4 linked regions of the Homo sapiens genome follow. The protein of the gene in region 2 interacts with the protein of the main gene of each other region in a pairwise test. Each region holds a gene or a part of one and is shown on either strand. Other genes may lie near its edges.

Region 1 (5,942 bases), on a different chromosome or scaffold from region 2:
TCTTTTCCCTAAGCATCGGCCGGTCTGAGAAAGAGTACAAAAGAGAGAAATTTTACAGCTGGGTCTCTGGGGGTGACATCACGTCAGCAGGTTCTGTGTTGCTCCCGAGCCGCAAAACCAGCAAGCTTTTATTAGCAATTTTCAAAGGGGAGGGAGTGTACGAATAGGTTGTGGGTCACAGAGATCACATGCTTCAAAGGCAATAAAATATCACAAGGCAAATGGGGGCAGAGCGAGATCAAAGTCCAGGGCAAAATTAGAATTGCTGATGAGGTTTCATGTCCCACTGTGCACGCATTGTCATTGATAAACATCTTAACAGGAAACAGGGTTCAAGAACAGACAACCGATCTGACTAGAATTTCACCAGGCTGGAATTTCCCAATCCTAGCAAGCCTGGGAGAGCTGCAGGAGACCAGGGCGTATTTCATCCCTTATCTACAACTGCATAAGACAGACACTCCCAGAGCGGCCATTTTAGAGACCTCCCCCTGAGAATGCATTCTTTTCCCAGGGCTGTTCCTTGCTGAGAAAAAGAATTCAGCGATATTTCTCCTATTCGCTTTTGCAAGAAGAGAAATATGACTCTGTTCTGCCCGGCCCCGCAGGCAGTCAGACCTTAAGGTTATCTCCCTTGTTCCCTGAAAATTGCTGTTATCCTGTTCTTCTAGGATGCCCAGATTTCATATTGTTCAAACACGTTTTACAAACAATTTGTACAGATAACGCAATCATCACAGGGTCCTGAGGCGACATACATCCTCAGCTTACGAAGACGACGGAATTAAGAGATTCAAGTAAAGACGGGCATAGGAAATTATAAGAGTATTGATTGGGGAAGGAATAAATGTCCATGAAATCTTCACAATTTATGTTCTTCTGCCGTGGCTTCATCCAGTCCCTCCATTTGGGGTCCCTGACTTCCTGCAACACCACAGCACTTCATTTCCAACAAATGAAATGAAAGCTGTGCCAAAATGAATGAAAGAAGTGCCGCCCCACCCCACAGCCCAGACAAGTTTGGCTCAAAGATCTGGTCTGCTTACCCACTGGTCCTGCTCTATTGGAGAGTGCTGTAGACTTTTGAATACATATAGGAAAAAGTGATTCCCATTATTAAAGACTGAACATTTCCAAATAACAAAATCACATGTGGCAAAACTTGTGAGCATTTCTGTTGTTTGGGGCCATTCCTGTAAACCACGTCTGTTTGCCCCTTACTGCTCCATCGCACCACAGCCACCAAACTTCCCAGCCGACTTAAGACACGGGCTGACTGAGCACTGTGGCTCCTGTCTGCAGTCCCAGCACTTTGGGAGGCTGAGGCAGGAGGACTGCTTGAGCCCAGGAGTTTTGAGACTAGCCTGGGCAACACAGGGAGACCCTGTCTCTACCAAAAATGAAATAAAAATTATCCAGACCCTGTCTCTACCAAAAACAAAACAAAAAAAAAAACAAAAATTATCGAGGCTGCAGTGAGCCAAGATCATTCCACTGCACTCCAGTCTGGATGACACAGCAAGACCCTATCTCAAAGAAAAGACACAGGCTGTGTATGGACATGGGGGCCTCTGAAAATAATTAGCCATCCCTCAAAGCTGCTGGAATGGGGAACACTGGGGACAGGGAGCCGCATGATGCCAAGGACAGGCCTCCAAACTGAGGTCACAGGGTGGCCCAAGGCCCTGGAAATCAGGGCAGCTGCCTCTACAGTGGGTGTAATTCCAGGCAGTAGCTGCCAAGCTGAGTGGGCCCCTGCAAGAAGAGAAGTGCCCGTCTTCTGGTCAACCTGGAGATTTGCATCTCTCCATCGTGCCCAGTCTCTGGCAGGAAGCCCCACTCCCCAGCCGACACTGCACCATGCTCATGGAGGAAGAAGCTGTGCAGCACAGCCCAACAGCGTTTTCCCCTTTCGGTTTTCTAGAGTAGTCTTGCAGAACTATTTTTTGGTTTTTTTTTTTTTGAGAGAGTCTCACTCTGTTGCCCAGGCTGGAGTGCAGTGGCACCACCTCAGCTCACTGCAACCACCGCCTCCTGGATTCAAGCGATTCTCCTGCCTCAGCTCCAGAGTAGCTGAGATTACAGGTGTGCACCAAAACACCTGGCTAATTTGTTTTTATTTTCAGTGGAGACAAGGTTTCACCATGTTGGTCAGGCTGGCCTCAAACTCTTTGACCTCAGGTGATCTGCATGCCTTGGCCTCCCAAAGTGCTGGGATTACAGGCATGAGCCACTGCCCCTGGCCATAGTCTTGCAGAACTACTTTGTCACTCCACAGAGATCAGTAGTTTAAGGCACAGCGAAGGTGCCCAGCTGAACTTTGATTATTTCCTGTGCAGCATAAAGTTCTGCTCCTCGGGAGTAAATCTGCAAATCAGAGCCTTCCTCAGGAAGATAGCTCTACAGATGACCCAGGGGAACAAGTACAAGCCGTGCGTTCCAGCACCCAGGATTTCTTGTTTCATGTCATTTTAAAGAACACATGGTTTCGAGTATACTATGGAGTCCTAGGTTTATTCCCAGCCTTGGCCTCAGTTGTCAAGCTAGCTGTTCCTTTTTACTTGGGGGATTCAGCCCCTTCCCATTTTACCCACCAACTCTTAATCATCTCCCCTGCTCTACTCAACCATCTTTTTCTGGACACTCTTCCTGCTTCCTGCATAACCTAGTTTAGAGCAGTCCCCTTATGCTAGTCTCTAAAGCTTCCTGTTCTTATCACAATTTTAATCAAAGTATACTCTCTCTCTTTTTTTTTTTCTTCCTGAGATGGAGTCTCACTCTGTTGCCCAGGCTAGAGTGCAGTGGTGCGATCTCAGCTCACTGCAACCTCTGCCTCCCAGGTCCAAGTGATTCTCCTGCCTCAGCTTCCCAACTAGCTGGGCCTACAGGCCTATGCCACCATGCCGGGCTAATTTTTGTTTAGTAGACATGGGGTTTCACCATGTTGGCCAGGCTATTCTCCAGCTCCTGACCTCAGGTGACCCACCTGCCTTGGCCTCCCAAAGTGCTGGGACTACAGGTGTGAGCCACCACACCCAGCCCAAAGTATACTCTTAACCCAGGGTGGGCACACACTGCTACGATCAATGATGGTGTGAGGTAATAGTGAGTGGTGGGGACTGTGGAGGGAATATGGCCACCGAAAGGACGGTTTCACTTGGCTGCAGCAGAGAGACTGGTTCCATGAGGGTGTGCACTCATTGTTTCTGGACCTCCCATATTTTCAAAGGAAGCCAGAATGTGGAGTTTTAAAGTGAAATGCCCCCCAATATTTAAGTACTGACAATTTTTAAAAACAATGTAGGCCAAACAAAACACATAGGTGGGCCGGGCGCAGTGGCTCATGCCCGTAATCCCAACACTTTAGGAGGCCGAGGCAGGTGGATCACCTAAGGTCGGAAGTTAGAGACCAGCCTGACCAACATGGAGATACCCTGTCTCTACTAAAAATACAAAATTAGCCAAGCGTGATGGTGGATGCCTGTAATCGCAGCTACTCAGGAGGCTGAGGCAGGAGAATGGCTTGAACTGGGAGGCGGAGGTTGCGGTGAGCTAAGATCATTGCACTCCAGTCTGGGCAACAAGAGCAAAATTCCGTCCCCAAAAAAAAACAAAAACAAATTTTTTGTTTGTTTAGTTTGAGCCACATAGGTGGCTCCAAATTTGTAGGTAGCCTGTGGTTTAATATCTTTCTCTCCCGTTTAACTCAGCTCCACGGGGCACATGGCATCTCCCTCTGCTCATCACAATGTCTGGATCAAACAAATGAAAAACAAAAACATGATGGCCTCTCCCAGCAAAGCTCCAGGGTTGGAAAGAGTCCCCTGGCAGGGAATTGGCACCCCGTCGTGCCCATCCTCTCTCTCTGACTGCCTGCTGGAAATGCCCCCATCTCCCTTTGAGTCCTCCTCCCGGGCAACCCCTGTGACCTGTAACCTCTGTCCTGAAATCATCACAATGGCCAGAGTGGCCTCAGCTCAGGGCCTCTGTGACATCACCAAGGGCCTGGCACCAGGTGCCCAGTCTCCCAGTTGCGAGGGCAAGCAAACCCGTCATGAGCAACTCCCTTCCCCATCTCTGCTCACCATGTGGACGCTGAAATCGTCCCTGGTCCTGCTTCTGTGCCTCACCTGCAGCTATGCCTTTATGTTCTCTTCTCTGAGACAGAAAACTAGCGAACCCCAGGGGAAGGTGCAATACGGAGAGCACTTTCGGATTCGGCAGAATCTACCAGAGCACACCCAAGGCTGGCTTGGGAGCAAATGGCTCTGGCTTCTTTTTGTTGTTGTGCCGTTTGTGATACTGCAGTGTCAAAGAGACAGTGAGAAGAATAAGGTAAGGATGGCTCCATTTTTTTTACACCATATTGATTCAATCTCAGGAGTCTCAGGGAAACGGATGTTCTAGTGAGTCTAGACGGCACCGTTGGGTATAATGAACCGACCTCATGGTCCTGGGCAAAGCTGGCAAATTCACTTCCTGATGTATCCTTAGTGAAGACAATTGTCCCCAGATCCACAGATACTGGGACAAAGAGTGGAAAGTGACCTCTGCTTACTGGCTCACAGATTTTCTGGTTAGATGGATTTTTTCAAATGTAGGATAGATTCAAGAACTTATGGTGTGTTTCAGAAAGTCAAAATTATTCACAGGGCCAGATTCACTAGCCCCTGTTTTTTAAATTCTTGCTAGTGTTTGACTTACTACAAAATCCTGAGCTAAATGGAAATGATATCATTATCCCAACAAAATATGAGACTTGTGCTGAAGAGATAAAGATGTAAGGTAGTTTGAGCTGGTCCTCAAAGTGACCACAAACAACTCTTTCAGGTAGAAAAGGAAGGGGAGAGAAAGTGCGTTCTCCCCTAGAAAGACCCAGCACTTCATAATCCTGTGCCCAAACTGATGAGAGCAGGGATCGGCAAACCCTTCCCGTAAAGGGCCAGGGAGGGTGCGAATATCTTCAGCTTTGTGGGCAGTATGGTCTTCTTGCAACTACTCAAGTCTGCTGTTGTAACACGAACTGTGTCAAAACCAACAAAGTTCACAATATTACTGACCTTGAGTATCTTTCCTGACAGGAGCAGAGTCCTCCTGGCCTTCGAGGCGGCCAACTTCACTCTCCATTAAAGAAAAAAAGAAATGCTTCCCCCAACAAAGACTGTGCATTCAATACCTTAATGGAACTCGAGGTGGAGCTTATGAAATTTGTGTCCAAAGTGCGGAATCTTAAACGTGCCATGGCAACAGGTAGTGGCAGTAACCTCAGGCTTCGAAAGTCAGAGATGCCTGCAGATCCATACCATGTCACGATCTGTGAAATATGGGGAGAAGAAAGCTCTAGCTGAATGGATTTGTGTGTCAGGAGAGAAAAAAGTTGAGTGTTGACAAACTGTATGCAAACTAATAAAACTATTCTGAAGAAAAGAACTTCCATGTTTGAGAGCTTGCTTCTTTTCTTTTTTTCACTAGAAGAAAAAGTGAATGGGAGACCAGTAGCCATAGCAGTGATGGTTTTGTTTTTGCCTCTCTCACGTCATCTAGAGCTGTGGGTGGTGAGAAGAACACCGAAAGCTACATAATAGTACGTGATGAGCTCGTGCTTCTGTTCAATGGCCGCGGGTGGACGATGGAGCTAGGGAAATCTGGGATAAGATGCTGACGTCACTTCCATACAAACTCTTGCTCTCTATAGCATCTATTTGTGCAAGATGCAGAACTGCTTTTTATCTTTGATTTATTACAAAAGACAGCATTAATGATAGTTTTAAAATGGTAAAATGATTCAATTAGGAGGGGTGTATTCTAGAGTTATCTGATTCTCTCACCACAAGAGTCCTTTCACTCATTCCCTGTCAAAGGTTCCGTGTATATTGACTTTTCCTTCTACCACACTAGCAGTTACATTTGTCAATAATTGGATTTAAAAAAAAAAAAAGGGG
Region 2 (7,025 bases):
TGCTTTTGTTTCTGCAGGACAAAATGGGGTAGGAATTGACTGCAGGATTTAATGTGATTGGGGTTCTAACCTATTATTAGCGCTAAATAGCTGCGTGAACCGAAGCAGCTTATTTGACATTTTTTTCTTAGACTTTTTTAAAAAAAGTACTTGTCTCATAAAATGTAAATATCAAATAAGAATGAATCTAGAACTAGATTTATCCACTTTTTTGACTATATGTTCTCTTTTTTCTTTTCCCTGGAAGTAAAAAAAAAAAAAAAAAGAAAAACAAGGGTTAATTCAAAATTCAGCTACACTGGATGTTTGGCTCAGCTCTGGGTTTTACTTTTGAGTTAAACTGGACCCATCCTTTTTTTCCCCTTGGTGATTTGTTCTTCATAAACACTTTCTATAGTACAATTCAGAAAAAAATAGAGGCACACGGCTATTACTTCTACCATAATCTGCTGTTGAGGAGACATTCAGTGTGAGGATGGGGTCTGGAGGTGGGGGACGTGTTTGGTTAACAGGATAACGGCCTCTGTGATGAACTGTGCAAAAATCCCATCAGTCAACATCTGATTGCAGCCAGATGGTCAAGGCTCATGGTGGAAGAGTTGTAGTGAGCCAAATACTCCTTTAGTTCCCCACAGCCCTAGGGTAGGCCCTAATTGGGCCCATTCTTTCTTCACTGAGATCTATATAAGTGGGTACTAAAAATGGAACTGACAATGTAGTATAACTGCTATGATGGCTTCTTTATTTTTATAAACTTTTTTTTTTTTTTTTTTTTTTAGCAATCATCAAGGTGCTACCCCTTTAGTTCTGGCAAAGCGCAGAGGAGTAAATAAAGATGTCATCCGATTGCTGGAATCTTTGGAAGAACAGGAGGTGAAAGGATTTAACAGAGGAACCCACTCGAAACTGGAGACCATGCAAACAGCTGAGAGTGAAAGGTACTGGAGATACAACTTTTTTTTTCTCACTGTATTACTCATTCCTTGAACTCCTGGGCTCAAGCATTCTTCCTGCCTCAGCCTCCTGACTAGCTGGGACTATAGGCACATGTAGCCACACCCAGCAAGATAATACGATTTTTTAAGGGGAAAGTCACTTTAAGTATGTGGATTTATGGTTAACTTTGTGAACTTTAATATTCATTTGCTTTTAAGTGCAACTTGAACTTTATATAGGACCTTATGACTGCAGATTACAATTGAGAAGCTATTAACAGAAAGTACTACATGTCATGTGCGCATAATGTTCTGTTAGCCACCTGCTGTATTGACAGTACAAAGGAGAAATAGTAACAAATGAATCTGAGGGGAGGAAGCCGGAGCTTGATGATTTTAAGTACAGGTCACAAAAAGAATGGAATTTCAAAAAAAAGAGAAGTATAAGTAAAGCCAAGAACTTGGGCAATTTTAGAAAAGACTGAAAGGTAGTTTCAAGGGTAGGGAAGTGGAATGCTGAGAAACAAGAAAACAAGAGAGGGAAAGCAAGATAGTATTTAACACATGCACAGTTCAGTAATGTGAAAGTGAAAGTGACTTTCATATGAGTTGGAGCTAATGAAATTTGGATTCCTGTGAGTAATCGAAGCTAAGATGTGGTAACTGACAGGGTCTTGAATAGCTCATCATTTCTCATCTAGAAGCAATGGAGAATGCAGTTCAGAGAGCTCCAAAAAGGTGGCGCACCATCTTTTCTCCTGATGTCACTGGGCTCAACAGGTAAAGTTAATAGGCCAGACTTAGTTCTAGTAGCATATTATCTGGTTGACCACCATGCAGTTTCAGCCTTCCACATTATACGTGTGAAGGAAAAAGGATGCTGAGCTTCCATAGCCTCTTCCCAGTATTCTCGGTAGGTTGTAAATAGAATAAGCAAGGGCCCACATCAGCTGTTTACCTAGTAGCTGATGGACTAGGACTTGGATTTAGAATCACATAATCCACTTAGACCATTGGGATCATTGTTTCTGTGAGTTCTAAATGAAATCCTCTCTGTTTTTCATAGCTTACCCTTCATTTGATTCCTTTGTACCCATTTTTGCTTTCCTCCTCTCGTGTGCCAGATGATGTGCTCTTTGGGGACCATTAATTCCACTCTCAAGCTTAGGTCTATTTTGTTCAGATACTTTCAAGCACTTTAATACAGTCCTAAAGAAATCCAAGAGCTTTACTTCTGGAACAGTGCATACTCCTCTTGAGTGATCACTGAAAGCTGACAAATAGATAATCAAGAAGTCAGAGATGTATTTGCAAGCCCTTGTTTTTCTCTCCTCTGTACTTTGGATTGACAGAATGGCATAAGCACTTTAACAATATTGAGTTAACTATTATTTGTTAAAGATTTTTTCCTCTAAGATAACTTGAAATTTATTTTTATCTTTTTATGAAATAACATTAAGTACTTTAAGCTTCTTTACCATGAAAAACAACCAAGAATGTGTTCTTGTTTGGTATATTTTTAGGATCTTTATTTTGTTAATAGCCAGTTTCTTGGCACCCTTTTATTAGAAATATACTTTTAGCATTAGTTTGCCTCAGTTGTGATTACTTACTAAGAAGTGATAAGTACAAAATAATATTCCATTGGATGAGCAGTGGAAGTACTCCTGCTTCCTTCACATACCTGCCATTTCACTGCAGCATGAGAGTTTGTATTAATTGTAACACTGTATAAAGCTCGTTTTTCAAAAATTGAGTTATTAACACTTTTATTACCTAGTTTTCCTATCTTACTCCTACCCCTCAGTGTCATGGTAGAAATTCAGTGGTTGAAGCTTAAATCAGAAAGTTGAAAGGTAATGTCATTAGGAAAATGCAAATGAGGACCATAGTGAAATGCCACTTCACACCCACTAGGATAGCTGCAATTAAAAAGATAGATAATAACAAGTGCTCTGGAGGATGTGGAGAAATTGGAACCCTCATACACTGCTGATGGGAATGGAAAGTAGAGCAGCTTCTTTGGAAAAGTCTGGCAGTCCTTCAAAAAGCTACACGTAGAGTTACCATCTGACCAGCAGTGCCACTTCTAGGAATATACCAAAGAAAATTGAAACATATGTCCACACAAAACTTATATATGAATGTTCATAGCAGCATTATTCATAATAGCCAAAACATTGATACCACCCAGATATCCATCAGCTGATGAAGGAATAAACATCATCTGTTCATCCAATGGAATATTACTAATATTATTATATTATACTGATACATGCTACAGCATGGATAAATTTTGAAAACATGCTACATTGGAGAAGCCAGGCACAAAAGGCCACATATTACATGATTCTGTTTATGTGAAATGTCCAGAATAAGCAAATCCATAGAGACAGAAAGTAGATGAGAAAGTAGACTAGAAGCTGGGAGAAGGGGCAATGGGAGTGACTGCTAATAGGTACAGAGTTTCTTATAGAGGTGCTGAAAGTGTACTGGAATTAGAAGAGATGGTTGTACAATTTGGGGAATATATGAAAAGCCACTGAATTGTACAGTTTCAAAAGGTAAATATTATGGGATGTGAATTATGTCTCAATAAATGTAGATGAAAAAGTTTAAAGAGATTGGCTAGCACATGGCATTATGGCATAATTGTGTAATGGCTTTTTCTAGAGCAGAAGATAAAGCAGGGTTTTAAATGTATTTACTATAATATTTTCCATTTCTCTTAGGATTCCCCCAAGACAGCACAACTTCTGCAGGCCTTATAAGGGACTATAAATCAAGTTAATGAAAAATATTTCCCCACTCCTCCATATAACTCTAAGTTTAATTCCTTTTTACTTTGTAGGTATGGGATAACAAAAACAGTATAGCTATCACATTTTTTAAAAAAGATACATGCAAACACACCCCCCAAAGACAGTGTAGATATCACGTTTTTAAAAAAAGATTATACACACACCCCATTATGTTAGAATCAGATATTCCCTGGACAGTAGAAAGCATTTCATTGGATAAAGTCTTTATAGAATATCCCGATTGGCAGAGCTTCATGAGCTCTGAAGAACAATGAGAATGCTCATGGAATTTTCATTTTATACCTAACATGTATAAGGGCATGTCAACTCGTAATCAATAAATTTTACATAGGTCAAACTAAGCCTCTGCAGAACTGTGTTATCTATTTGTGGTTTTACTCTTTTAGGCCTTCTCAAAGTTCTAATCTTATTTTTAAACTTGCTGTCAAGTGTTCCAAAATTACTGTGGTGTTGTAGATTCCCACTGAAAACATCATCTCTTATTCAGAGAATAAACATGTTTTAATTATTAAAAAAAAAAAAGTTTGGGTGTTAAGCAGACTGGCCCATTAGGAAGTCAGTTTCCCATGATCAGAGAAGACCTCTAATGTTGGTAAAGGCTGAAGGACTTTTGTTTGATGGTATCAAGAAGTAAAATAAAGTTGTAGGTTAAAAAATGTCAGTTTTGCATGTTTATTCATAGTTCATAATGAATGAGACTCTAAGATACTGTTTTATGGGAGTTAGGAAGGATAGTAATGAACTTTGATAACCAGTAGATAGTTGATTCCTATGATCATGGTTATGGTGGCTTTAATCTAAATGATACCCTCTTATTGGGCCTGTATGTTGTGATATAACCATGAGTGCTCTTCCCTTAGTGCTTCCAAGTACCAAAGTCAGATGCAGTTTCTCTTTGTGGTAGTCGTATTTCTCATTGATAAAGTTCTGAAAACCAGAATCAGTGTTTTTATGGTATTTGCACTACCTTATTTTCAACTAGACTAGCCTTTATGCAGAAGAGAAATGAACATATTCTGTCTTACTGTACAAGATAGAACTAACACCAATAGGAAGAAACTATTAAGAATTCCTAATGACTAGGCCAGCTGTGGTGGCTCATGCCTGTAATCCCAGCACTTTGGGAGGTCAAGGCAGGTGGATCACCTAAACTCAGGAGTTCAAGACCAGCCTGGGCAACATGGCGAAACCCTGTCTCTACCAAAAATACAAAAATTAGCCAGCCATGGTGGCATGCACCTGTAGTCCCAGCTACCTGGGGGGCTGAGGCAGGAGGATTGCTTGAGCTGGGGAGGTGGAGGTTTCAGTGAGCTGAGATCGCATCACTGTATTCCAGCCTGGGCGGCAGAGTGAGATTCTGTCTCCAAAAAAAAAAAAGAATTTCTGATGACTAGACGAGTCCACATGTACAACAGGCTGAGGAGTAACCTTCCATTATTAGAGAATTACAATTAAAGAAGGAATTCCTTCATTGGTCAGATTATTGAACTAAATTAATAAAAATTCCCTTTTAACTTCAAGATTCACACACACTGTATAAGTGACTTTTTAGATTTACTCATCTTCCCCCCTCCCCCCAACAGACATTTACTTTCTCAGTTCTAGGGCCTAGAAGTCTGAGATCAAGGTGTCACAAAGTTGGTTTCTTCTAAGGCCTCTCTGCTTGACTTGTAGATGACTGTCCTCTTCAGGTGTCATCACCTGCATGTCTGCTTATTCGTATTAACACATTCTTAAATTATGAGTCTGCACTTTGAATCTTCTAAATTTAACATAACAAGAATGTGTTGTGGTTTAATATCTTGATGGAGACAACTCATAACCTATTTCAAGACTTCTGCTCAGGACACCTTAAAAAAAAATAGAGATGGTGTCTCGCTATGTTACCCAGGCTGGTCCCGAACTCCTGGGCTCAAGTGATCCTCCCTCCTTGGCCTGCAAAAGTGTCGGGATTACAGGCATGAGCTACCACGCCCAGCCAGGACCTTTTAAATAGAATTTTTAACTTGAGTTTACTAAATTCTAAACCAAGAGAAACATACTCATTACCATTTAGCAATTTACAGTTTAGTATATATTGTTCAGATACGTAAGCATGTAAGAGTGTGTATATATATATATGTGTGTGTGTGTGTGTGTGTGTGTGTGTGTGTGTGTGTGTATTTGGTCTTTTCTAAATAGTAGCCCTGTGGTTTTATGTTTTTGGAATTGCTGTGTTTTTTTAATGCCCTTTTTGCTCTTTCTTCTTCCACAGTGCCATGGAAAGCCATTCACTCCTCAATCCCAACCTGCAGCAAGGTGAAGGAGTCCTCTCCAGCTTCCGAACCACGTGGCAGGAGTTTGTGGAGGATCTGGGCTTCTGGAGAGTATTGCTGTTGATCTTCGTCATTGCTTTGCTGTCTCTTGGCATTGCTTATTATGTGAGTGGGGTGCTACCCTTCGTGGAAAACCAGCCTGAACTGGTGCATTAAAGGAGCTCATGGAAGATGAGGCAATTAATTGCCTGTTTCCTGGCTTCCAATGTTTGTTCTCAGTTTCTCAGAATTTTTCTTAGCGCAAAGCAGTGAGGGCAGTACATGTTCTTTTTGCATTTTTAATTATTGTAATCCTTTTAGATAATGATGTGTTCATTTGAACTAACTACATACTATGATCAAGTATATTGCATCCTAACGCTACCTCTGACTCAACCTGACTTTGTAGGAAAGCCTACACGTAGCCTTGTTTGATAAAAACACGGAAGTGACTAGAGAATGGAAGATAAAGGAAGAAGCTAGGAAGTCCTTGCTATCAAAACCTTATCCTAATATAGGACCAATTGAAGTATTCAAAAAGAAAAACAGTATCTTATATGATTAGTTTTTGTTGGTGGTTTTGTTTTCATTTATTTTTGCAAGAGCCACTTTTTATTTACTTTCTCTAGGGATAAGAGATAAAACTTGAAGTACTTTTTTCAAATCTTGTGTGCAAATTAGTATTGTTAGCATCTATTTGGCTTATTTTAGTATTTTTAAGTCTAGTCACAAACCAAACAAAACTTTTGAAAATGAGCTATATTTTGTTCAAAGATAATTGATTTGATCTTATATTTATTTGTTTTTAGGATAATTTTTGATCTTTTTGTAAACTGCTTTGCTTGTTAATATCTGTGAAAAATAAATGAGTTCATTTTGTTCACTTTCCAATTTTCCCGAGTATCCTAGTCATCAAAGATAACAGTTCATCAGAATTACAGTCAGAAAATCCTTTTTCTACTGAATAGTTAGCA
Region 3 (7,838 bases), on a different chromosome or scaffold from region 2:
GAGGGCCCAGGGTCCCAGCTGCCCTTCAGAGGCTTGTCCACCTGTTATGCACACCAAGCCATGCTCTGGCTCTCAGATGCCCTATTTCAGGCTCTTACAGGGACAGGGGGGCAGGTCATTTGCCTGCATGGAGCTTGAGGCTTTGGGACAGATGTCTAGGAGTCCAGGGTAGGGGTAAGGGGTATGAGGAGGAGATAAAGAGAGAAGGAGGGAGGGGGACCAGACCCATCTGAGGGAGAGAGGGGCTCCTCCCATCCCTAGTGCCATTCTGCCATCAACCTGACACAGGCTAGCATCTGGCAAATCAAGATGATCTCAGTGCAAATACCCATAAACCAGGCATGCAGCTGGGGCAGGGACAGGGAAGGGCTGGGGAGAGAGTCTGGCTGAACCTTTGGCCTTTGGGACGACCCCCTTCTTCCCCAGCCACCGGGAACTCTCGTGGGTGCAGTGAAAACAGACTTCCAGATCTTACCCGCCTGAGGCTAGATCTCACCTAGCCCTGGGGTATGATGCAGCCACGTGGGGAAAGGAGGAAGAGTGGGAAGTCTCAGGTCCCACCCCAGGCTTGCCCAGAGACTGACCTACAGATAGGGTGAATTGGAAAAAAGCAAAGTATTCATTGAAGAGAAAGGGCAACCCAAGATCAGCATAGACCCCAGCTGGTCTCAGCTAGGAGGCAAGTGTGGGCAGAGGGAAGGACAGCAGAGAAGGGGGTGGTGGGAATAAGCTGGCTGAGCAAAAGAGCACTTTGCAGACTGAGGTTGGTGGAGCAGAGGATGCAGCCAGATTGAGCCTGGAGCCTTAGTTTTCTCATCTCTAAAACAGGTCTATCAATATCAACCTCAGGGATGTTGTGAAGATTAAACAAACATAATAGAGCACCAGGTGAAAGCACCCAGCCACACTGCCTGGCATACAGTAGGTGTTTAATAAATGGTAGCTCTCCCTCTCCTTGTAGGGAATAGGTGCCAGTGTATGTGAGATGTGCAGGTACAGGTAGTAGGTCTTCTAGGAGGAAAATAGGAGGCATGGGGCAGGCTAGAGATGACTGCAGACAAGAGAGAGGGTTGCTAGCCCCACTGGGTTGTCCCAGTTGGCAATGCCTTGGACCTCAAGTTAGGATCCTTGCTCCCTGACTCTTCAGTCTGCTTTTCTAACTGTTAGCTCTGGCTGGGCCTGCTGGCTTTCCCAGGCCCACACCTTGGCACACACTCCTTTCCACAGCCTTGGTATATCAGTGTGGCCTAGTTTACATCCTGACTTTTCCACTTCCTGGCTGGGTGGCCTTAGGTGAGTTATTTCACCTCTCTGTGTCTCAGAGTGCAAGGCAGGCAGGGAGAAGTCAAGGACAAGGGCCACAGAAATAGAAAGGTGTGTGCATGTTCATACACATGTGTAGATGATAGTGAACATGAGAAACTCTGGGGGCTAGATTTTAAATTCCACGAGGACAGTACCCGGTCCTGCCACCTTCTGCTGAATAAATGGATAGGTGAGAAAGAATGAGAGTTTGTGTGCATATATGTACAAGTGTGTGAGAATATGAGAGGAGATAAAAAATGTGCATGTGCCACACAAAGCATGTGTGAACAGGTGAGAACGTGTGTGACTGGGGATGAGAGTGTCTCTGTGGGAGGCTCTGCAGAAGAGTAAGAGTTTCCATTTAGTAAGTACCACAGTGGGCCAGGCATGATACTAAGCCCTTCACATGCATTGTCTCATTCACCCGTCACCACGGCTCTGTGAATGAGGGACGACCTCTAGGTTACAGACAAGTAACTGAGGCACACAGAGGTGAACTGACTTGCCCAAGGAGACACAGTTCATAAGCAGGGAACTCTGTGGCTCTGAAGTTTATACCTCCCTGCTGCTCATGGGTGTGGGAAGCTGAGCTCAGAAGGAGCAGCTCTGCTCTCCCAGGGCTGCACGATGCCCGAGGCTTCCTGCAGCTGCCAGATGTTCTCCTGCATCTCTGGGTCCAGGATCCCCCACATACAGGTATCAGTGTTTGGTGTTCCTTGTGGGCAGGGCTTGTTGGAGCTGCTCTTTGTGTCAACAGGGATGGCCCCGCTCAGAGGTCAGCACAGAGGCACTGCTCAGGAAATGCTGGTGGACTTGAAACCTGATAGTTGTGTGTGTGTGTGTGTGTGTGAGCACGTGCGTGGATGTGTTTGTAATGACACAGTAACCTGGGAGAAATGGGTGGGGAGTGACTGCCAATGGTATAGGGAGGGCTTGGATGAGAGGGCCCCCATTGCTCACAGATCCTGACTTCCTCTCAGGCTCCCTTGGGAGTAATTTTTCCCTACCTCGGGGGCCTGAATCATTACATCTGAGGCCCCGCCAGGGTGGGTCAGGAGGTGGGAACCTGGAATCACTGGCCTAGCCATGGCAGGGAGTAGGCTCAGCTCTGCTCCTGAGGCCCCTGTAGCTGGTGTGGGCAGGTTGAGGCAGAAAGGCTGTGCTGTGAGCAGGGATAAGTAGCATGTGGAGCAGGTCTGGACATAAAGAGTCTTCTTCTCATTTCCTCTGCCACCCTGCCCACCGGGATTAGGTGCTGGCACACTCAGGAACTGCTTGTCTTCCCATGTTTCCCAAGACTGGCCGCATAGCCTCATCTCCCCATCCCCCACCTGGCCTTGGGCTCTCCTCCTGTGGGGCACCGGGCATGCTGGCTGTGGGGAGGAAGAATCAAGGCTGGCTCTAGGGTTGGCAGTGGTGGTCTTAGATGAGAAGAACTCTGGGCTATGGCCAGGAATATAGATGAACTTTCCAGGCCTGGCAACCTCTTGAAGGACAGTGAGGGAAGAGTCCTGGCCAGCCCCAGGCTGCTGCTGTCCATGCACGACCCAGCCTTAACCAGGAATGAACCAAAGAAGCAAAGAAGCAAGGATTGGCTGGGAATTTGAGCCAGTATGGTACAGGGGAATGGCCACAGGCTTTGGAGACAGATGTCCCAGGAGTCAAATCCTGCTTTCACCACTGATCAGCTTGGTGATCTCAGATGAGTCACTTCTCTCTGAGCCTTACTTTCCCCTGTAGGTAAAATGGGGATACTGAAACTCATTTCAAAAGGTTATGAAAGGAAAAGCATCTAACTTGGTTCTTGACAATAGTAGGCACTCAGTAAGCAGCAGGCTGCTTTCTGTATTCAGGTTTTGATGTCCTAGCATGCACTCCAGGGATCCCAGTCTCCCAGCTAGACTACTGGTGTGTCCCTACACCCTATTCATCTCATCTCTCCTTCCTTACACCCCAATGCAGGGTCCAGCTGAGAGCTCAGAGACCCCAAACAGCTCCTTCTTTCCCTACCTACCCAGAGCCACTTCACCCTCAAGGGCTGCCCCTGGAAGTGGGAAGGGCCCAGATTTTCCCTATTTTCTCCTCTATTTGGGAGAAAATAAAAAGACAAAATCTGGGCTATTCCCACCTCTACAGCCACAAAGATCATCAGAGGATCCACTGAGAAACGCAGTAGCTCAGTCACCTATTAAGCGAGATGATGGACATGAAACTGTGTGAATGGTGGAGCACTTTGGGAATGTTGCTCATCTAATTATCTCCATAAAGAAAAAGTGGGGAGACCTTGTATTCTTGGCAGTCCCTAAGCCTACCCCAAACTCAGATATCCTTCTAGTTCTTTCCCTTCCTCCCCATACAGGGTGACGGTTTTTGCCAAGGCTACGCCTGTCCCAGGTCTTGTGCTATGGCAAGCTCCGGGTTTATCCCAGGCGCCCGCAGTGCTATGGAAGTCCAGCAGGGGGAGACATTAGCACGTGGGTACGTCCTCTGGGGTCCGACCAGCGAGAGTGGGTCGGACCTGGAAGGTCTGAGCTATGGGATCGAGCCAAGTTATAAGCAAAGAGGCAAGGCGGGGCGGGAAGAATGGGCCAGGGCTGGGAGACAAAGACCCAGATGGCGAGGCCGGGACAGGCTGGAGTCCGGCTTCTCCGGTCCAGGATGCCCGCTTTTGCTTTTTCAAAAGTCTCATGCCCTGTGCTTTTTCCTCTTTGCCCTCGAGGTGTCTTTCTTTATCGACGTGCCCTCTCATCCCCGCTTGCCTATCCCGGGACCTTGCCCGCGCCTTCGGACAGGACAAGACTAAATCTTGGCTCCAGAGGTCCCACAAGGCTCCCCCAGAAAGCTGAGATTCCGAAGGCCTGGTCCCCAGGGGCGATGAACACGCCTTCTCTCCCCACCACACCCCACCCTGCTCCCCGCCCCACCTCTAACCCCAATCAAGTACTGGACCCTCACCAGTTTCCCCCTCCCACTGTTCTCACTTTTATGTTCCTGACTCCGGGTCCAAGTGCAAGCAGACAGTGCATTTTGAGGGCGAGAGGAGGAAAGCCCACTAAAGCCTTACGTGGGACTGGACGAGGAGCAGACAGGCTGTCCTTGACACGGAGGTGGGCACAGAGCAGGACTTCAGGGGTCCTGTGTGTAAAAAGAAAATGGAAATACTTTCCTGGGGTACTTGGGACAGGGTCAGTGGGCTGGGGTGTTGACCAGACGCGTGGAGAGGAGAGCAGGCCGGCAGCTCTTGAGAGTGCCAACTTCCCACGGGTTGAGCTCTCTGGGAACAGGACTGAGAGGGACCCAACCCTAACCGCACGAGCCGCACACTCAGATTGGTGCCATCGGGCGCGCGGCGTCCTTAAGAGCTCCCTGAAACCCCGCCCCCTTCCTGCTCTGGGGGCGTGGTATGGGGCAAGGACCCCGCCACTGAGCTTGCTATTGGCTAAGAGAGCAGGGTTGGCCTTGCGTTCGCCTGAGCAAGGGAGTAGACAGCACAGCGGCAGCGGAGGGAGTCTATGCGAGCTGGACAGCAGTGGGAGGTTTGTGAGGCTCGCACTGGCCGCAGACCCTCGGGCTCGATCGCCCGGGAGCCAGGACTCGGCGACGCGAGGCTGCCGGGCTACCCGGCCGAGGCTTCGGGGGCGCAAACTAATGGGACTGGCTCGCTCGGCAGCATCTCCCCGCTCTTCTAAGTACACTGAGCAGGGCCCGCGCTGAAGTAGAAGCTGTCCGGGGGCGCGTAGCCCGGAGTCCCAGTGTGGCCCGGAGGAACGGAGCCCGTGCCAGGGCGGCCCAGTCGGGAGCCCGGGGACCGAGCTTGTGCTGTGGGGAAACCCCCACTTCTTCCAAGGGACAGCGATCCCGGGACGGTCGAGGCGTCGGGGCGGTCACCGAGACCTCTGCGGGAAGACCCCGTCGGGGAGAGGGCGCGCAGCCCCGAAGCGTCTCGGGAAGTCGAGCGGAATCGGGCGGGATCACCCGGGGGCGCAGAGCCCCCGTCGCGCCTCGTGCGGCAGCGGAGAGCCCAGGAGAACGAGCCCTCGGGGGCCGAAGCCCATGCCCGGGTTGGGGGCGGCTGCCCAGTGAGTCCTCCTGGCCGGCCGGGCGGAGAAGAGCGACACCGAAGCCGGCGGGAGGGGAGCACTTCAAGGCCGGCGGCTGCGGAGGATGGGCGCCTGAGCGGCTCCGAGCGCAGCGCGGCAGAGGAAGGCGAGGCGAGCTTTGGTGAGGAGGCGCCAAGGGATCCCGAAGTGCAGTCTGCCCCCGGGAAGATGGCTCGGCCTGGGCAGCGTTGGCTCGGCAAGTGGCTTGTGGCGATGGTCGTGTGGGCGCTGTGCCGGCTCGCCACACCGCTGGCCAAGAACCTGGAGCCCGTATCCTGGAGCTCCCTCAACCCCAAGTGAGTAACTTATCTCCTCTGGACGCTGGGGTGGGAGGCACTCCTTCAGGGTGAGGCCGCACGCCCCGGAGTGCATGTGGGGAGGTCTTCGGAGGAGGAGCGGCGCCTCATTTTGTCTCCGGCTTTTTCGAGTGTTTTCCTGCGGGCGGGCGGATGGAGCAGGGTGCGGCGGGGTGGGGTAGGGGCACTTGGCTGGGTTGTGACCCCCCGGGCTTCCCACCCCCTGCCTCTGCACGTCTTGGATGAAGTCGAGGTGGTCGCACAGGCGGAGCTGGGGAGTCCGGGCGCCCGAGAGCGCACCGGAGAACTGAGTGGAGGCGAGAACGCAGCTCCCTCCGGGGCCCCTGGGAACGTGGTGATTTTCGCCGAGAGCCGCTCCAGGAGCGAGCTTGACTCGGGCGAGGGACGAGGCCAGAACACGGGTTCCTCGTTTGCGTAGCTGTGGAGGGAACACAGAGCGGGACCCGGCGCTTGGGGTGGGTGGCAGCGCCAACATCCCCACTCGGGCTTCTCCCATTTTCATTTCTCTTTCTTCCCTGTTTTCCTCCCTGGCTTTTTGCTTTGCTGTCTCTTTTTGCCCCCCGCCCCTCCTTTCTCCCTGCCGGAGCGGTAGAAAGGCGGGCGCTGCTCCCAGGCTCACAAAGGCAGCGGGTGGAGAGGGGCGGAGTGGGAGAGTGGTCGTTGGGTAGTGGGGGTTCGAACCAGTGCCCGTCAGGGGTCCAATGGAGCCGGTAACAGAGCTTCAAGGGCCCGCCAGGGCGGAGAGTGGCGGCCGAGCTGTTGAGGGAGGTGGGTGGAGAAGGAGCGATTCCTGCCCAGGCAGGTCCCCTTGGCCCCCGAGTCTGTCCCCCAGATTGGGAAGCTGTGCTTAGTTTTCCCCAAGGGGTTGGGGCGGGGAGTGGGCAGCTATATAAAGGACATCCTTTCTTTTCTTTCTTCTCCTTCCTCTGCACAACTACCCCACCACCACCACACACACAACCCCTCCAAACAACACGCACACCTTTCAGGGCGGTGGCTCAGTGGTTTCTGGGCTTTTAGTGGGAAGTCGCTGGGGCTGTTGTAGTGACCTCTGGACCTTCTCTTTTGGCATCCAGGACTCAGGTTGGAACCAAGGGTCAAAATTGCCCTTCCTCTCAATTTTCTGGAGGTCCCAGCAATGTGCGAACAACCCCACTTAGCAGGAAACTGGGGAGCTTTGACCTGCTCCATCCGTGATCACTGATTCCTGTATCTCAAATTTCTTCCTGTCCACTCTTGCTGCCCCACGCCGCCTCCCCCCCAGCCCCGCCCTGCCCCGGGTAACTTCCCAGGCTCCTGCCTACCTTGGCCTCTTGGGTCCCAGGGACGTTTGATCTCTCAGCCCTGGAGTAGGAGAAGGCAGCTTTAGTTTTCTTCTCCTCGATTAAGGTAGAGTCCTATTACTGGTTGGTGGGATGGCTAAACCAGGGTTGGGGTGGAGGGCTCTCCCTGGGTACAAGGAAAGGGATTGGCAAGAATTTCTTTCCTACCCAGAAGCCAAACGGGGTACAACACTCTCCTAACAGCAGGGGCTCAAAATGCTCTGGGAGCTCTGGGCTGCTTGAGCCCAGGGGGGAACGTTGTGAAGTGCTCAGTGGTTGTGAAGTGCTCAGTGGTTGTGAAGTGCTCAGTTACCCTGGTAAGGGTGGAGGCTGGAAATGTTCTGTCTTGAGCCAGGAGAGTTGAAATCCGCCTGGGGTAGCCCATCATAGGGGCTCATGGGAGTGACCTAATTGCTCTCTCGGGTCTCTAACCAGAGATAGCATGCAGCTCCACAGCTGGAAAGGAGCCCTCCTGCAGAGTTGGGGGTGCTGGAAGAAACACGATCTGTCTGTGCTTCCCCCTTTTTGTGCTCAGAGACTTTAGTGCTCTGGACTGGCTTACAGGTTTTGGGGGGTGGTATCCTCTCTGACCCCCCTCCTCATCTACCTCAAGCTGAGGGCAGGCATTGTGGGGTGAGGATGGGGGGTGGCTGAAGACTCTCTAGAAACTGTCCGAATTCCATTCTGTAATTGGGTAGATCCTGGGAAGGATCAGAGACTGATCCTGGTGCACCCTCCTTCCATCCAGGCTCAGGGGTCTGGAATGCAGCCACTGTCTACATGTGTTGGCTCGG
Region 4 (7,988 bases), on a different chromosome or scaffold from region 2:
GCTTTTGGGAACTCCACCCCAGAGAGACACAGGGCTGCTGCCAGTGGGAATGTTCAGCTGGAGATGGGGTGGCTACGCTATGAGCCCAAGCCCAGGGCCCTGCCTAGTGAAGAGCAGGGGGTCAGGGGCTCACAGGAAGGAGAGGCTGGCTCCCCTCTGTATGGTGGCTGTGTATGCTCGAGGTGCCAGCAAAGCAATCAGAGTCTGTGTTCCGTGTTCGTTCCCTAGCCCAAGGGCAGCAAGGGCAGTACCACTGCAGTGACAGCGGCAAAGTGGCTGTCAGTGGTCTCTGGGAACTCCGCCCCAGACAGATACAGAGCCACAGCTAATGGGAATGCTCAGCTGGGGGTGGGGATACCATGCAGCGGGCCCAAGATGGGGGCCCTGCCTGGTAGAGAGTAGGGGGCAAGGGATTCACAGGGAAGAAAGACTCGGCTCCTCCTCATGTGGTGGCTGTAGCATGCTGGAGGTGCCAGGAAAGCAATCAGTCTCTTTGTTCCTTCCCCAGCCCGAGAGCAGCAAGACTAGTATGCTGTCATGGCAATGTAGAGAACCTGTGGTTTGTCTCTGGGATTTCCTCCCCAGAGAAATGCAGAGCTGCCACCACCTGAAGTGCCTAGGTCAAGGCAGGGCAGCTGTGCTGGGGGCTCAGGTGGGGAGGCCTGCCTAGTGAGGAGTAGCAGGCACATGAACTTGCATGGAAAACAGTGTGGCCACTTTTCTGTAAGGCAGTTGTTCTATGCTGGAGGTCTGTGATAGTCCTTAGGCTCTTCACCCTCTTCCCAGCCTGAAGGCAGTAGGGGCGGGGGCTATGGAAGTGGCAAAAAAAAAAACGGTGTTCCTGTTGTGTTACCTCTGCGAGCTCCATCCCATAGAAATGCAGAGCTGCTACCAGCCCAAGTCCTCAGGCGGGGGTGGAGTGGCTGTGCTGGGGGCCCAGGCCAGTGGGCTTTGCCTGGCAAGGTTTAGCGGAGGCCTGCAGTCTGTCTGCTCCTCAGCACCATGAATTCGACTCCATGCAGCTCTCCATGTAAGTGCAGGCCTGGTGGAGGACAGGACTCGGGGGGTTGTCAGGGGCATCCCCTGTGCCCAGGATTGTACGGGTTCATGGCAGAAGTGTGGGTCCCTAGGGACTGTCACTCACTCATCATTTCCTCGTTGTGGGGAGCCTCCCTTGGCTCCATGCCAATCCCGGGTGGGCAGCTGTCCTGTCTCACTCTTCTTTGCTCTCTGTGGGTTATGTTACTTCTGTGATGAATCCCAAAGTGTCCTCCTTCAAATTATGTGAATTTGTTCTTGCAGTCCTGTCAAATTAACCACTTTACCTTTTACCTGTGATAAAGATTGTGTCTTTACTACAGAATCTCTCTCTCCTTTTTTTTTTTCTTTTTTTTGCCTTAACAAGCCTGATTTCTATTATCTAGGAAGATGTTAGGATTTAATTAACAGCTCTGTCACGTCTTCTTCAACTCAAAAATAAAGGTTAATGGAGGTTTTGCTTATTGTTCATATTGTCTTTTTGTAATCTTAACTGTCTTGGACACAGCTTTTCATTCAGCTCTGAGAAGTTTCTAGAGTAGGGTTTCCCTCATATTTTTGAAATTATAGTCACTTTCTGAGAACAACAGAATGTACCAGACCTATTCTATTTTTTTCCTGTTCTAAGCAGGATTTATGTATTCTCTAGGAGTCCCAGGTCCTTTTGATAGAAATAAATATTACTTTAACCAAAAATCTAGTTTCCAGGGTTGCATATCCGAGTTTGTGGGTTAGTGCTATTGTTGCTATTGGAATACTTCTTGTAGTGACTGGCGGTGCCGGAAAATATATGGATTGCCAAATCTATAATTTTACCTCCTCCCATCCCCAATTTAACATAGTAAAGTAATATTTCACTGAAGATCACAGAATATATATACACACATATCATTAAAGTAATATTGTAGCTTAGGGAAGAGTTCAGGGAAAGGGCTATATTCTGGAAATTGTAGAGATCTTTCTTAAAGGATCTCTAAGCTGTTATGTACTTGTCTTAGTGAGCTTGGGCCACTATAACAGAATACCATAGACCGGTGGTATGAAAGAGAGACATTTATTTCTCACCGTTCTAATAGCTGGAAGTCTCAGATCAGAGTGCCAGCATGGCAGAAGTGTGGGTCCCTAGGGACTGTCACTCATCATTTCCCCATTGTGGGGAGCCTCCCTTGGCTCCATGGCAATCCTGGATGGGCAGCTGCTCTGTGTCGCTCTTCTTTGCTCTCTGTAGGTTATGTGGCTTCTGTGATGAATCCCAAAGTGTCCTCCTTCAGGTCATGTAAATTTGTTCTTGGAGTCCTGTCAAATTAACCACTTTACCAGTGAGGGCTTTCTACTAGCCTTGCAGATGACTGCCTTCTGGAGAACTCATCTCTCTTTTTTTTTCCTCTCTCTCTCTTTTTTTAAATTTTTTTTTAAATTTTTTTATTATACTTTAAGTTCTAGGGTACATGTGCACAACGTGCAGGTTTGTTACATATGTATACATGTGACATGTTGGTGTGCTGCACCCATTAACTCCTCATTCTCCCAGTGCTATCTCTCCTCCCTCCCCCCACCCCACAACAGGCCCCGGTGTGTGATGTTCCCCTTCCTGTGTCCAAGTGTTCTCACTGTTCAATTCCCACCTATGAGTGAGAACATGTGGTGTTTGGTTTTCTGTCCTTGTGATAGTTTGCTGAGAATGATGGTTTCCAGCTTCATCCATGTCCCTACAAAGGACATGAACTCATCATTTTTTATGGCTGCATAATTTTCACATAGCTTCGTTTCTACAATCACAACATTCCTGAGGTAAACAGGCAAGGTGTAATCATTCTTTTTTTACAGAGGGAGAACAAGGAACTTAGGGAAATCAAAATGGGGACACTAACAGGATTTCTGTGGAAATTTAAGTAAATGAGAATTTGTAGTAAATTTTTTATCCTAAAACAAATAACTCACTTTGGCCGAAAAATGGGATGTTACCCAAGGTCCCCTACTGGGCCGGCGGAGAAAAGGACCTGCCTCCTACAGGGGCACAAACAAGGCAGACTAGGACCCAGCAGTCGGCCAAGGCCCAAGGGTCTCCAGTAAGGAAAATGTAAAATGTGAGTGTGTGAGACTGGCCTAAGATATAGGAAGAGCAGTAAAGAGAAGAAAACTGACGAGCAGAGGGGGAAAAGAATTATTAAACATGGTCAAGGAGCAAGGAGCACGACAAAGCCTCAGGATTTCTTCAAGGGATACTGCTGTGCCAGGTCTCAAGGGCAGAAGGATACAAGCACAAGACACCAGGGCCACCAAGCTGATGGGGTTACTGAGCCTCTGGACAGCACCTTCTGATAGGAAGCAAGGAAGCACACTACAAAGGCTGCAATCCTGGAGGCTGAGACAGTCAAGAGGGAGTGGAAGGGCCTCTGCTGCTCTGGGAAGGTATCTTATAGGGCAAATAAGCTCTTACTGTGTGCCTAAGAGAAAGGAAGAGGGAAGCGAGGCAGGTGTCATGGCCTTAAGAACTTTCTAGAGGTTTCTATTTATTGACATTTGACCTAGACCTCTTCATGAGCAAGGCGCAGCCTTGGGCTACAGGTAGGAAAGTCAGCATCCTACTCTCTCCTCAATTCCATCTGTTAATCCACCAACCCAAATCCCTCCCACCCCCACCTGAAGTCCAAATAAGGTAAAATGATAAAATGATGTGCTGTTCTCTCAACAGTTGGCTGAGTCTGAATTGGAGGGTAGGAAGCATTTGAAGCTCTGCCCATTTAGTTCCAGAACAAAAAATAAGCAGAGGCAGGAGGTGGAGAGCAAAGACGCTGGCAGCCCTGCGTCTGGTCTTTATAGCTGTGTCTTTGGATTTGTAGGCCACTCCTCAACTTTTCAGCTCCCGCACGATTCCTTAGGGCAAGCGACCAGTGGTTGACACCGCATATACACCTGGCTTAAAGTTATTGACTCGCTGCCAGTTGGAGACCCAGCTGTCCTCTGGACTCATCATCGCAATGATTCCATCAAAGGAGGAGCTGGTGCAGCCATATAGCATCTCTCAGTTACCCTTCATCTGTAGATATGCATCTCAATAGTCACAACCATCATATTCAAACTGGTCTATAGTACCTTGACCAGTGAACACAGCAAACAGGCCCACAGATGCCACAGGTCCTTCAGCACCGTCTCCAGGGCCATCTTCTCCAATGAGAAGAGCAACAGCAAGGAAGATGGCCACAGCCTGAGCACCCGCAGGAAGTAAACAGCTCGTTAGCCGGGTCTCTTCTTATAATTCCATCATGAGGACCCCATTCTCATGACCTCATATTAAACCTAATTACCTCCCAAACTTTTGACCTCCAAATGCCATTACGTTGGAGGGTAGTGCTTCCACCAATGAATTTTGAGGAGATACAGACATTCACTCCCTAACAGTGCTATAAATGAAGTCAGGGACCCTGATGGTGTCTTTATCACAGAATCTTACATTTTCTTTGTCTTTGCCTTAACACAACTCTTTTTGCTCACCTAGAAAGTTCTTGGGATTTAATTAACTGCTCTATCATCTCTTCCTCAACTCGAAAACAAAGGTTGCTGTGTCTTCACATGCCATGTACACACAAGGTATACTTTAAAAGTTTTTGTTCATTGTTCACATTGTCTTTTGCTCTCTTAGACTCAACTTTTTATTCAGTCCAGAGAACTTTTTAGTATAGAACTCACCCCAAGAATATAACTGCCTTTGAAAATATAATATTCACAAAAAGAATTTAAAAAGAGGGGACATTTACTAAATTTTTATTGGGCATAACAATTATTTCTTTTAGGGCGTTGCTAAATTTTTTGTCTAAATGAAAAAAAAAACAAATTGAGAAATTCCACATTTCACACTGATCTAGTGATCTCAACATACTTGTGGGTTTCTACTAACTGTTGTTTGGTATTGCTTTCTCAATTTCCTTTTTTTTTTTTTTTCGCCTCATCTCCCGGAATGTATCAAAGGAAACCCCTGTCTTTGAAAAAGACTTCTTTTGAGCTAACTTTCTTATACTGGTACCTTTCTAATCTCACTACAATATGTAACATTGGTGTTCGATCTCAAGTATTTCTGAATATATTCCCCTATCCACAGAAATATACTCTGGGGGAAAAAAAATAGAACAAATTCTTGCCGTCCTGACCATTGAACAAGAGACTAATTAGACAATGGGGCTAGAAAAACCTCAAAGTAAACGTGAGTACTTTCTCTCCTTTCCATTTCAAAGAAGCAGATGGAATTATACTAATTTAAAACATATGAATTGATGGTAGTTTTAAAGATTGTTGATGATGACGGGGAGAAGGAGGTGGAAGGAAATAAAAATGACGTTGGTGAAGAGGAAGGACATAGAGTCAAATAAGTTGGATAACAGAAACTTCTTTATAAAATGTATATTGGACCAAGAGGGGAGATAAAATATATAAAAGAGAAATAAGATGAAAAGAAAGAGAGTAATATGAGAAGATTCTTTTAAAGAAAAAAGAGAAAAGGAAGATGTAGAAAAAGCATTTAGGCTTATGCTGTATCAGAGGCTCTAACTGTCCCATTTTATGTTTGACTTAAGTGACACCAGTGGATTTGTATTGTGATAATATTAAATAATATTTTTGATAGATATATAGAACAAGTGTGGAAATGTTTAAATTAAAATTAAAGTTTTACTTTATCTCATCACCCTACCATGGCAAACTGTAATCACAGTGTGATCCTATTGAATTACCTTTTTAGGTAACAATATTTCTTAGAGATTTTTTGCATCAATATATACTGATTACATGCTTATTTAATTACTATACAGAATATCATTGTGTGAAGGGACCATAATTTAGAATTTCCACTATTGATAATATACATGTAAATATTAGATTACAGTATGTGTTTTCTATTTTGAGAAGTACTGCAATGAATATCTTTTAACATAAACAAGCTCAATTATTTCTATAGAATAGACACCTGTAATTGAAATTATTGTGGCAAATGAAATGCATTTAAAAATGGATAAATGCCACTAAATTGATCCTTCTAAAAGGCATTCCTAATTTTCCAGTCCAGGCAGCAGCATTTATTTTCTCACTAAGAGTGCTTATTTCCCCTCAGCCTTGCCAACACTGCATGTACTTAATTTACTTAAAAAATCTGATGTGTGAAAAGTTATACCACAATCTTTTCGTTTACAGTTCCCTGATTGGGCATATTTTTGTTTGATTAGTGGCTATTTATAACTTCAGCAAATTAAAATTTCAGCAAATTTCCTGCTCAGAGTTTTGCTCAGTTTTCTAGTTGATTTTGAAATACTTTATCCAGTGCGGATATTAATATTATGAGAAGACTTTCCTTTCATACGTTCCTTGACTCTAACATTGCTTGTGTTATATAGAAGTTTTAATTTTTATGTACTCAAATTATCTATTCTAATGGCTCTTGGGTTTTGTATCTTACTTATAAAATTCTTTTCATTTCAAAATTACCAAGAAATTTTACATTTTTCTTTCTTATTTATTTATTCATCAATAAGCTCTAAAATTGATTTATTTGGAGAAAATATTTATGCTCTTCTCTAGATCTGAAATATTTGGTTTGCTGTCACTTTTAGATTGCTCCTTGGTAGAATTAGCTTTCCTAGCTTGTAGCTGAGAGGAGGTTAATCTCTATTTTTCTTTTGGTCCTAGTGGAAGGAGGCATGCATCCCCAGCTGATACCTTCGGTTATTGCTGTAGTTTTCATCTTACTTCTCAGTGTCTGTTTTATTGCAAGTTGTTTGGGTAAGTTATTAGCCAAAGTAGAACTCTTCTTGAATTATTATTTCCAAACAACTTTTCTGAAGTTGCTCTAAGCCTTTTGGTATCTTGATTTTTCCTAGCATAACCTATCTATAATATCTTCAGGGTCTTGCACTGAATATTCAGAGCTACATTCTTGACCTTCTGTCTTTCAATGGTGGTACCTTGTGATAGAGATTGATTGATGGAATTTAGACCATTTTCTGTACATGTAAAAGTTGGTTACTATAGCAAATTTCCCCCCATTTTGGACTGGGATCACAAAGGGATACATCTTATGAGAAAAGAGTAAGCAGAAGAAAAATAACTTTCAGATAGACTGGCTTTGAAAAGAACAAGGTTGGAAGAATTGTTCTCTCTCTCTCTTTCCCTCTCTTTCTTTCTTTTTTCCTTTCTTTCAACCTCTTTATTGATGTACGATTGACATATGAAAACCTGTACATATTTAATGTATACATCTCAATTTGGGGGATTAGTATACACCCTTGAAACCATCACCACCATTAAAAAAATTCTTTCTGATATCAAACATAAAATAATTATAATTAAAGTAATATGATATAGGTGCAAGACAAATAGACTAGAGGAAAATAAAGGAGAGCTTGGTTACAGATCCTGCATGTATATAAGACTCTTTATATAAAACAAAAGAAGATATCTCAGACATATGGGAAAAGGACAATTTTGTTCAATTAATGTTGCAGAGCCCATTGATTATTTATATTTAAAAGATGAAATTGGTCTCCTGCATCACACTGTATACAAAAACAAATCTAGAGCAGATTATTGTCCAAAATGTGAAAAGTAAATCAATAAAGTTTTAAGAAGATAAATGGAGAATATCCTCATGACCTGGAGGTAGAGAACGATTTCTTAAACAAGCCACAAAATGCACTAGAAAATAAACATTGACAAATTATACTACATTAAAATGAGTTACTGTACAACAAAACATACCAGTAACAGTGAAAATAAAAAGCCATAGGAGAAGATACTTGTAATGCATATAATTAATAAATAATTCACATGTAGATTATATACAAATTTTTTCAAACCAGTAGGAAAAATACTTACAATAAAAAAACTGGGCAAAGTCTTAAATAGGTACTAAAACAAAGAGAAAAATGAAATGTCTAATAAACACACAAAAGTGCCAGCCTCAT

The links.
Region 1: the proteins of ANKRD46 (region 2) and FAM209A interact in binary tests that used the Homo sapiens proteins (3 or more experiments, as listed by UniProt).
Region 3: the proteins of ANKRD46 (region 2) and EFNB1 interact in binary tests that used the Homo sapiens proteins (3 or more experiments, as listed by UniProt).
Region 4: the proteins of ANKRD46 (region 2) and CLEC4D interact in binary tests that used the Homo sapiens proteins (3 or more experiments, as listed by UniProt).

The regions. Positions count from the first base shown.
Region 1 is NC_000020.11:56,520,723-56,526,664, forward strand, and holds FAM209A (protein FAM209A precursor), read left to right. Parts: upstream 1-4,021; 5' UTR 4,022-4,086; coding exon 4,087-4,335; intron 4,336-5,060; exon of another isoform or gene 5,061-5,081; coding exon 5,082-5,348; 3' UTR 5,349-5,430; downstream 5,431-5,942. UniProt on the Homo sapiens protein: May play a role in sperm acrosome biogenesis.
Region 2 is NC_000008.11:100,521,758-100,528,782, reverse strand, and holds part of ANKRD46 (ankyrin repeat domain-containing protein 46), read left to right. Parts: intron 1-779; coding exon 780-938; intron 939-6,011; coding exon 6,012-6,228; 3' UTR 6,229-7,025.
Region 3 is NC_000023.11:68,824,204-68,832,041, forward strand, and holds the start of EFNB1 (ephrin-B1 precursor), read left to right. Parts: upstream 1-4,817; 5' UTR 4,818-5,573; coding exon 5,574-5,701; intron 5,702-7,838. UniProt on the Homo sapiens protein: Cell surface transmembrane ligand for Eph receptors, a family of receptor tyrosine kinases which are crucial for migration, repulsion and adhesion during neuronal, vascular and epithelial development.
Region 4 is NC_000012.12:8,508,522-8,516,509, forward strand, and holds the start of CLEC4D (C-type lectin domain family 4 member D), read left to right. Parts: upstream 1-4,981; 5' UTR 4,982-5,211; coding exon 5,212-5,239; intron 5,240-6,714; coding exon 6,715-6,807; intron 6,808-7,988.